Regions from separate parts of the Homo sapiens genome. Here region 2 is linked to region 1. Evidence: fine-mapped expression QTL. A gene starts in region 1. The other region holds a variant in brackets. All regions are shown on one strand. Distances are between the middles of the regions.

Region 1 (5,225 bases):
CTCCCCTACGACCACCACTTCCAACACCACCCCCTTTATCTCCACCTCCACCTCCACCACCATGTATCGCCAACCCTTTCACTTTACTGACCTGGGGATTTTTCTGATCCCCGTTCTACACACCCTTTCTTTACTCCACACCTTCATATTCTCCTCTCCTCCTCCACTCTGATCTTTTCTAACATTCACTTTTTAAAGTGCCTGAGTAACAGAGATAAAGCAATGGCTTTCCTACCACATTCATTTTATGAATTATGCCAGTTATTCATTCATTCAACAAATATTTACTGAGAGCAGGCACTGTTCTGAGCACTTGGGAGCACAAGTAACTCCTCCATTTGCAGGATTCTCTTTAAGGCTAAAAAGCTTATTTTTTAGGATTTTTCTTCACACACACACACACACACACACACACACACACACACACACACACACACCATTTGCCACATTAGACCTACTTGCAAATTGTTAACCTGTACTGCAATTATCAGCTCACACTGCAGAGCCTCCAAGCTGGATGGAAAGCAGAAGTGAGCTGTTCAAAAGGATGCACGAGTCAAAAGGAAAGTCTCAGGCAATAGTGATGAAGTAATTTCTTATCTCTTATTGCCACAGCAAACTACCGCAGGAAAGAACTTCCTATTTCCATACTCTGATGATGTATATTTGCTTAACACAGCTTGCCTGAAATAGTTCATACATGGACCCACTCCAGAAAAGACACTTGATTTATAAAAAGAGGAATGGAAGGAAATTATAAGGTAAATTAAAGAATGAGTTCATCAACACATACACAAACTTACACCCTTTTCTTCCTTGCTTGCATGATGTGAGCAGAAAGAAATGTGTGTTCTTTCCATTTCTGTTTCTTTTCTTTCTTTCTTTCTTTTTTTTTTTTGAGATGAACTCTTGCTCTGTCACCCAGGCTGAAGTGCAGTGGCGCAATCTCAGCTCACTGCAACCTCCGCTTCCCGGGTTCAAGCAATTCTCCTGCCTCAGCTTCCCAGGTAGCTGGGATTACAGGTGCATGCTCCCACGCCCAGTTAATTTTTGTATTTTTAGTAGAGACGGGGTTTCATCATGTTGGCCAGGCTGGTCTCGAACTCCTGACCTCAGATGATCCACCCGCCTTGGGCTCCCAAAGTGCTGGGATTACAAGCGTGAGCCACCGCACCCGGCATTCTATTTTCTATTTTCTTTTCTTTCTTTTTTTTTTTCTTCCTGTAGAGATGAGGTCTCATTATTTTGCCCCCAGGCTGGTCTCAAACTCCTGACCTCAAGTGATCCTCTCGCCGTGGTCACCCAAAGTACTGGGATTACAGGTGTGAGCCATTGTGCCCAGCCCTCGGTTTCAATTTTCTACATAAAATAAATAACTCGATAGAAATTAGACTTTATCAAGGACAGCACTAGGAACACATAGGCCACTCAAGACTAATAGAGCCCACTGCTGTAGTCAAAGATGCTTCAGTGGGTTATAATTCTGACTTCTATAATTAAATACTTTCACATATACCCCAGCAAAGAAAAATCAAGTGCCCCAGACACCCTTACTAAAAGACTCTGAACCAACAACACCTAGCTTTCATTTTTATACCAGAGATATTTTGGCAAGCCTGAGACCTTTATCAAAGTGTAAAATGTCCCCCAGCTGCCTCCATGCAAAGGAAGCTCCCTTGCAAAGAACACACTTTCTCGAAAGAGGGCGGCCCCAGAGTGCTTCCCCAAATGAACTCCTCAGGACCCAAATACATGCTGAATTGTGCTTTTCTAAATCAAACCTGTGGTCTGCAGTCTAAACACCTATCAAGACAACACCCATTTAAGAAACATAAAAGCAGAGTGAGTACACAACTCTCTCCTCTTTCAAAGCTTTCACAGAATTAAAGAATCTTTAGCACCTGGCTTCCCAGATTACAGAGAGCTGAGTGAATATTACATCCCCAAAGTCATATTTCCTACCTCACTACTCTAAGGAGAGTGCTAGGGTATCCATTGCTTTGCCATCTTGATCTGTCAAGCAGTTACCTCTCATACATCAGCCAAGAAGTGACGTTACTTACATGCAATACAAAGAGAGTAAATCCAAGAGCAGTCTTATTCCTGGATTCAGAAGCCTCATAGTACTCTGAGGCCAAGCTTGAGGATTCTACTTAAAGCAGCCTCAGCTCTGGAAACTCAGTCAACCCAGAACTAACATTCAAAGCTGATCAGAGAGTAAAGCTCTTTCGAAAGAAGAGGAAGTATCATCTCCACTTCCTCAATCCTAACGTTCTTCCTTCTCATTGTTATGAAACCCTTCCTTGATGCCCATATCCAGGACACAGTACATGTAAGGCAAGCACACCCCATCTGCCTGAGTTCATTGATCACTAAGCACTGCCCAGTGTATTCATTTGCCGAGCACATTGGTGGAACAGTTCATGGTTCTGCTTTCCTGTTTTGGAGGCAAGGATGTTCATTTACAGGCATGGAGGGTGAGATGATCTGCAGAGTCATTCTCAGCATTTTTGGGTGAAATGCCACTTCAACCTCTTTAGGTTCAATCTTCTTTCAGATTTCCCTCTTTCCTCCTTTCCTAATCGTTCATAATGCTCTAATAAAGAGAGGGTACAGACACATTTGTAAAACGTATTTTAGGATAAAAATAAGTCTTAGCCTGCCATCTTTTGCAGTAGACATAGAAGAGTCTCTAACCACAAAACTTTTCTTTCCCACATTGGAAAAGGAAAATGGCAGGCTGAAAGTCAGAGATATTCCATCTCATTACAAATTCCTGCCCTCCCAATCTCCCTTTCAACACCAGCTTCTTGTTTCTCTATACCTTCTAGGGAAATGAATACAGCTGGGCGTGGTGGCAGATGCCTGTAATCCCAACCACTCAGGAGGCTGAGGCAGGAGAATTGCTTGAACCTGGGAGGCAGAGGTTGCAGTGAGCCGAGATCGCACCACTGAACTCCAGACTAGGAGACAGAGCAAGACTCCAACTCAAAATAAATAAATAAATAAATATGTATGTGTATATATATATATAATATATATATATAATATATATATTATATATATATTATATATATATTATATATAATATATATATTATATATATATTATATATATAATATATATATTATATATATTATATATATATAATATATAAAATATATATATTATATATATAAAATATATATAATATATATAATATATATATAAAATATATATAATATATATAATATATATATAAAATATATATATAAAATATATATATATATAAAATATATATATATAATATATATATAAAATATATATATATAATATATATATAAAATATATATATATAATATATATATAAAATATATATATATATATATATATATATATATAGAATATATAGAATATATAGAAACCTAATCCCCAATGTGATTGTATTTAGAGGTGGACCTTTGGGGAGTGATTAGGTCATGAGGACAGTGCCCTCATGAATGGTATTAATTTTCTTATTAAAGAGAACCTGGAGATCTGCCCACCCCTCCACCATATGAGGACATGGCCAGAAGACAGTCACCTAGGAACGAGGAAGCAGGTCCTCACCAGACAATGAATCTGCTGGCGCCTTGATCTTGGATGTCCAGCCTCCAGAACTGTGAGAAATAAATGTCTTTTGTTTGTAAGCCACCCAGGCTACGGTGTTTTGATATAACAGCCTGAATGACTAAGACAAAGATAAAATGTAAACTAAATCTGTGGAGGAGTGAAAAAATGAAAGAAGATGCTGTACATTTTGAGCAGGAACAAAATGAAGGTTCTCTCAGCGGCTTCTTGTTTGTGTACACTTCTATTTCTGGAAGTGCTGCCTCATCTTCTCCCTATATTGAGTTGTCTTCTAGTTCCCTGCTTTACGTAGAAAAAAAAATGGTACTAGGTGATATTAAAGGAATTTAGTGGTATCAACAGCATGGCCTGGCTTCTCACCAGACATTTAGATGCCATCATCAAAGATATCCTCAAAAGACATGTTATTTACCTTTATGGGGCCAGAATAGAGCCACTTAAATTCTTTGAGCAAAGATGATTTGTAGAATTAGAATAATCCTCAAAACGGCCGGACTGTCAGTTCAAGATGACGGGCTGACCACAGATTTGCTCCCTCCCTCCCCAAAGACTCCGTTAAAATGAGAAAAGTATAAAAAGTTTATAGGGCCGGGCACGGTGGCTCACACCTGTAATCCCAACACTTTGGGAGCCCCAGGCTGGCAGATCATGAGGTCAGGAGATCGAGACCATCCTGGCTAACATGGTGAAACCTGTCTCTACTAAAAATACAAAAAATTAGCCACGCCTGGTGGCACGAGCCTGTAATCCCAGCTTCTCAGAAGGCTGAGGCAGGAGAATCGTTTGAACCTGGGAGGCGGAGGTTGCAGTGACCTGAGATCGCGCCACTGCACTCCAGCCTGGGTGACAGAGCGAGATTCCGTCTCAAAAGAAAAAAAAAGATATAAACCCACAATAACCCAAAAAAGGAGGAAAAGCATCAGAACTTGGGAGAGCACAACAGATTTCTGGCAGCCTGAAAGCCGATGGAGGAGCAATAACAGATGGAGGCAGGCAGGGGAACCACAATATCTCATTAGTTAGGAGAACACGGCGTTGGAGGAAATTGCCCGTGTGCGGTGCTGAATCCCTGAGAGGACCGGAACTCAAGCCAAAAGAAGCTAAGAGAGCTAAATGAGTGATAGGGTGACAGGACTGAAAACAGGAAGAGTAATTCAAAGTCTGTAAGAACTCAGCCCCTCCCATACCCCTCTTTCAAATCTCTCTGTCCGCCCAGCCTCTGCACAGCAAACACACACAATTCCAACCCCGGGCAGCATACCGAGGATTCGTCTCTACACATAGTGAAATCATGCAGAGAATACAGGCATTGTATGTGGATATGAGCACTCCACAGTCAGAACTCCACATTCTGGCAATAAGAGCCTCATCTAGCATGTGCTGGATGATGGATGATGTGCTTTTTTTTTTTTTTTTTTTTTTGAGACAGAGTCTTGCTCTGTCACCCAGGCTGGAGTGCAGTGGCATTAATTATCTCGGCTCACTGCAACCTCCGCCTCCAGGGTTCAAGTGATTCTCCTGCCTCAGCCTCCTGAGTAGCCAGGATTACAGATATGTGCCACCACACCCAGCTATGTTTTGTATTTTTAGTAGAGACAGTGTTTCACCATGCCGGC
Region 2 (5,225 bases), 120 kb before region 1:
AGCTTGCTCCAGACAGATGATAAATCTTCAAATAAAGACTTCTCAGGAAAATCCTCAAACCTAATGAAAAGTTCAGCTCATCCCATGGGCCACTTGGCATTCTGTTGCTTGGGAAATGTGCCCACACCCTCACCATTAACTCATGTGTTAACTGAACTCTTCCTCCAGGGTGGAAAACGCTGTATTGACAAGTACCCAATGTCTTCTAGTCCATTCCCATCTTGTAGCTTAAAATCATCCTTTACACGGGGTCGGTAGGTGTATTTTTGGACTTTCTTACACAGGACAGATCATAGTCACTGAGAAAAACCATTCCTGGTATCTGAAAATTCCTAGCACAATTCTCCTGCATCCTAAAATCTCAATATTTAGGCAAACACATTGCTTTTGTTTGTATACATTCCTTTGATTTTTTAAATATTGCTTTTAGCTGCACTCAATCTTCTCAAAGTAGCTTTGAATAATATAGAGATAGTGTTCTTGGTCAACATTTACTTGCAAGAAAATAGACGCATAGACATTTGCATCACTGACTTAGAGCTACAAGACCTCATAATAAAGTACAGGATTAGAATCCAGGTGCCATTTGTCCCTTATACCATGCTGCCGAAATCCACCTTACTGCTGGCTTGCTTCAAGAATGATGAAATTATATACACACACATATACATATGTATGTTTATACACATGCATATCTATATATATGTTAATATTTATACACATACATATCTATATATGTGTCAATACTTATACATTTATGCACTATAAATATCAATTCAATATATATCAATTTATTTTTAAGTTAGTGTGTGTGCACTTATGTACTCTATTTCCTGTTAACGATTTTAAACGATTTTAGGATAAAAGCCATTTTTGATTTTAGATTCTATGCATTGGCAAATCAACTATCATATATGCATATATAATTCTTACAGCCATCAGAAATGATGTTGTGGATATACATGTATCAACATGGAAATATGTTTCTATGTATTACTTAGTGAGACAATCAAGTGACAACAGCATCATGTATGATATTATTTTATTTTTGTAAAACATAGAAACAAATGCTTGGAAACACATACAACAAAATGTCTAAACTCGTGCCATGGTGGTAGGAACCTTTATTTATTTATTTATTTTTTAGATGGAGTTTCACTCTTGTTGCCCAGGCTAGAGTGCAATGGCGCTGTCTCGGCTCACTGCAACCTCTGCCTCCCAGGTTCAAGCGATTCTCCTGCCTCACTCTCCCAAGTAGCTGGAATTACAGGCATGCACCACCATACTGGGCTAATTTTGTATATATATATATATTTTAATACAGACAGGGTTTCTCCATGTTGGTCAGGCTGGTCTCAAACTCCCGACCTCAGGTGATCTGCCTGTCTTGGCCTTCCAAAGTGCTGGGATCATAGGCATGAGCCACTACACCCGGCCAAGCCTGTATGATCTTAATTCATTTATTTCTCTCTGTGTGTTTGCTTCCATGTCTGTCTTCTTTTTTTATTTCGCTTACTTCTATTTTCAAATTTTTCCTATGAGCACATACTACTGTATAACCTTTTTTATAATTTTTATTTTTATTTTTAGCTGTTTTTTAAGAGATGGGGTCTCACCATGTTGACCAAACTGGTCTCAAACTCCTGGCCTCAAGTGATCCTCCCATCTCAGCTTCCCAAAGTGCTGGGATTACAGGCGTGAGCCACCATGCCTGGCCCTATTGTATAATCTTTTAAAGCATTTTTCAGTTACTTTAAATTTCCAAAAAGTAAAAAGTTGGATTCTATATTGTTGTTTTTTTTAAAAAAAAAAAGAAGTTGTGGAAACACCGACAAAAGTACTATGCACTGTCCACCAGAGAAAAGAAGGAAGCTGTATCCCCTGAGTGGGCATTTCACTGCTGTGAGCTAAGAAGACTGTCCTCTAAAATACCTCAGCCATGGCATTCACTCTGGCAATGCCCAAGCATATCACTGCCTTCTGAGAACAAGACAAAAGAAACCAACATTTCCTGGCTCTCGGTGTTCCACAGTTAATTTTGAAAAGTTTGGAAAGAATTTAAAGGAAAATAATATTGGCAACATGAGCAATTGTTCCCACATTACAACAAGAAGTTATTGAGAACTGCCCATCCCAACTACAGATAATGTGGCCATAAAGCTATGACAGGGGAACCATTATTTTAGAAATACATTCAAGGATCTGCAAAGGAAAATAATTGTTAGAACACAATAATACATTATAGACAATAAAT[A/C]AACTAAATGTCCATTTAAAAATTCATTTCCACACATGTGAAATTAGAATGTCAGAAGTAACAGAATTCAAGAAAGTCCTCAATCATTCTAACATTTAGGTTTCCAAATGTTAACTAAGCAAGCATTTTTACCCCTTTGATCCATGAGTCATTGTCTTGCGGTAAACCGGTCACCTACAGCTGCTGAAATGTCACGTTTTGCCCTGTCCAGACATGTCAACATTCCACCTTCTCATTCTCCTTTCTAATGCAAATTCTAGGAACCCATATGTTGGCCAAAAGTTCATCAATTTCACATGGTTAGTTTGAATTGTCTTCACTGAAGAAACTTTTTTTTTTGAGACGCAGTCTCGCTCTGTCACCCAGGCTGGAGTGCAGTGATGTGATCTCGGCTAACTGCAACCTCCGCCTCCCATGTTCAAGCAATTCTCTTGCCTCAGTCTCCCAAGTAGGTGGGACTACAGGCATATCCACCACGCTTGGCTAATTTTTATATTTTTAGTAGAGGGGGGTTTCACCATGTTGGCCAGGCTGATCTTGAACTCCTGACCTTCAGTGATCTGCCCACCTCAGCCACCCAAAGTGCTGGGACTACAGGCGTGAGCCACAGCACCCAACCTTGAAGAAACATTTCAAAACATTGGAATTTTGTTTGGGATACGCTCAGAGGCTGGTTCTTGGCTAAGACAATAAATATAGAGTTCAAATAAATTAAAAGCCCATAATTCTCATTTTGGTAGAAGTCTGGGAACACATCAGTGTTCAATAATAATGCTCAATTTAATTAGTTAATTCATACAACTAATTGATAATTAAGTAATGTAATAATTAAGCAATTCCTTCAAAAAATACTGGTACATGCTCTGTACCTGCCAACTTCTAGGATACAGAAACACAGTTTAAATCAGACAAGTAAAGAATACGTCCTCTGCTGCTTATGTTGTAGCTGGGGGAGAAAGAATATAATAAGCTATGACTAATGTATTCATAAATTCCTATAAAATTTTTTTGAATCTATTGTAAACTCACTCAGACATTTTCCAAAATGTATGCTAATCTATGCCTACTGATGAAAGGTTCAGAAGACTTAATGTCACTTTCCCAGGGAAAATTAATCTGTTCTTTATTTTTCTTGAGCTGAAAAAAAAAAAGGTACTCTATATTTACTGAAACTTGCAGAATAGCTGTCTCATGAAAAGAGAAAATTTTGACTTTCAAGTAACATTTTCTACATGGGTAATTCTGCCCAATGTAAAAAGTGATTAGATCTTCACTATAGAGATTCTCATAAAACTGATTTCAAGAAATATGCCTTCCAAAGATAAGAGCCTCTGAAATTCACATGAAGTGTGCATGCAGCTAGAGATGGAACACATCTCATGCAGACAGTTACTTCAATCCCCAAACATGCAAAACTTTCACAATTCAGAAAGCAAAGGAGAAACACAATCACAATTGTACAGACATATTGGGGCCTCAAAGAACATTAAAGTCTCTGTAATATATACAAAACCAGATATTAACCTACAAACCTCTTCAGTTTGTCTAAAGTTTTTATGAAATAGATAGTTGGGGCCAGGTGCGGTGGCTCATGCCTGTAATCCCAGCACTTTGGGAGACTGAGGCGGGCAAATCATGAGGTCAAGAGATCGAGACCATCCTGGCCAACATGGTGAAACCCCGTCTCTACTAAAAATACAAAACTTAGCTGGGCGTGGTGGTGCACGCCTGTAATCCCAGCTACTCAGGAGGCTGAGGCAGGAGAATCGCTTGAACCCGGGAGGCGGAGGTTGCAGTGAGCCGAGATCGCGCCACTGCACTTCAGCCTAGCAACAAAGTGAGACTCCATCTCAAAAAAAAAAAAAAAAAAAAGAGAGAGAGAGAAACAGATAGTTGGATGATTCATTTTTTCTAGTCAAGGCTCAGGGGCCTCAAGCTTCCTTGAACTGGTGATGCAATGGCACACATGGTGTCAATAAATGAAAACTAAAAAACACAAGTATCTAATAATTTTATACAAAGAAACAATGTACAAAACTAAAATACACCAAAAAAGTAAGCGACGGTGAATCTAAATGAAATTCCACCCTTCTTACTCACAAACTCTTTGTCCCTCAATTTTCATATTATTTTCCCAGTCTCCCCAGGCTCTAAAACTTGGAATCATGCTTATTTTAGCCTCAAATTTTTTGTGTCTTATATCCAAGCGTTCTTCATACCTCACCCCTTTTTATTTGCGTAGTGCGCCCTACATTCTCACTGTTGGCACTCTAGTCCAGGAGCTCATGTCTGAACGCCTGCATTTTCTCACCATCTCCTAACTGGCCTTCTGGCAGCTCCCTCACTCTCCAAAACATCCAATCTATTGCTGCTAGGTTCATATTTTTCGCATGCCAATTTCACGAGCTCACCTTCCGGCTCAAGAATAGGCAGTGGCTCCCTACTGCCTGCTGGATCAAACCCACATTCCTACACTATCACTACATGTCTCAGTCCCCCATTCACTGGCCCTAAGTCACCTCTAAATGGAGAAGCTATGCAGCCTGGGGAAAAGAGCCTGGCTTTGTCGTTGGGAAACCTTTGTTTTAAATCCCAGTTCTGCTATTTACTCCTTATGAGACTTTGAGCAAGTTACTTAAATTCCCTGAGCTTCAGTAAACTCCCTTGAAAAATGGGAATAATAAAATCTATCTTGCTCGGCTATTATGAGAATTCAATATAATCGCTAACACAGTGGGTTGGCACAGCTCGTTTATATTTTCATTCCTTTGTTCCCATTAGTCCCCAGAATGCGCATCTCCCACCTCTACTTCTCAAAGATCCTAATAATGTGTTAGCAAAATGAGAGCAGCTGTGCAGGACCTAATCGGAACCTTGGGGCCTTTCTAGCAAATTCAGATTGCTCCTTTTCCCATATCTGTTTTTAAGAATAGAGGTGGAAATCCTTTCCTGGAAAACTATTTTCTGTCAA

The links. PIP is the estimated chance that this variant, and not a neighbour inherited with it, causes the effect. A credible set is the group of variants that fine-mapping cannot tell apart.
Region 2: its variant is the best candidate, but not a certain one, in a credible set for the expression of IPCEF1 in whole blood (INTERVAL, PIP 0.61).

What each region holds. Positions count from the first base shown.
Region 1 is chr6:154,354,609-154,359,833 of GRCh38, forward strand. IPCEF1 (interaction protein for cytohesin exchange factors 1) reads right to left here and starts at 2,195. Exons shown (of 12, transcript NM_001130700.2): 1 at 2,064-2,195.
Region 2 is chr6:154,237,129-154,242,353 of GRCh38, forward strand. All of the region lies in intron 5 of IPCEF1 (interaction protein for cytohesin exchange factors 1), which reads right to left. It also overlaps a transcript of OPRM1 not described here. Among named protein-coding and RNA genes, the nearest start is that of IPCEF1, 120 kb to the right of the region's middle. RefSeq lists a silencer at 2,334-2,534. The variant A/C (reference allele first, on the strand shown) is at 2,255.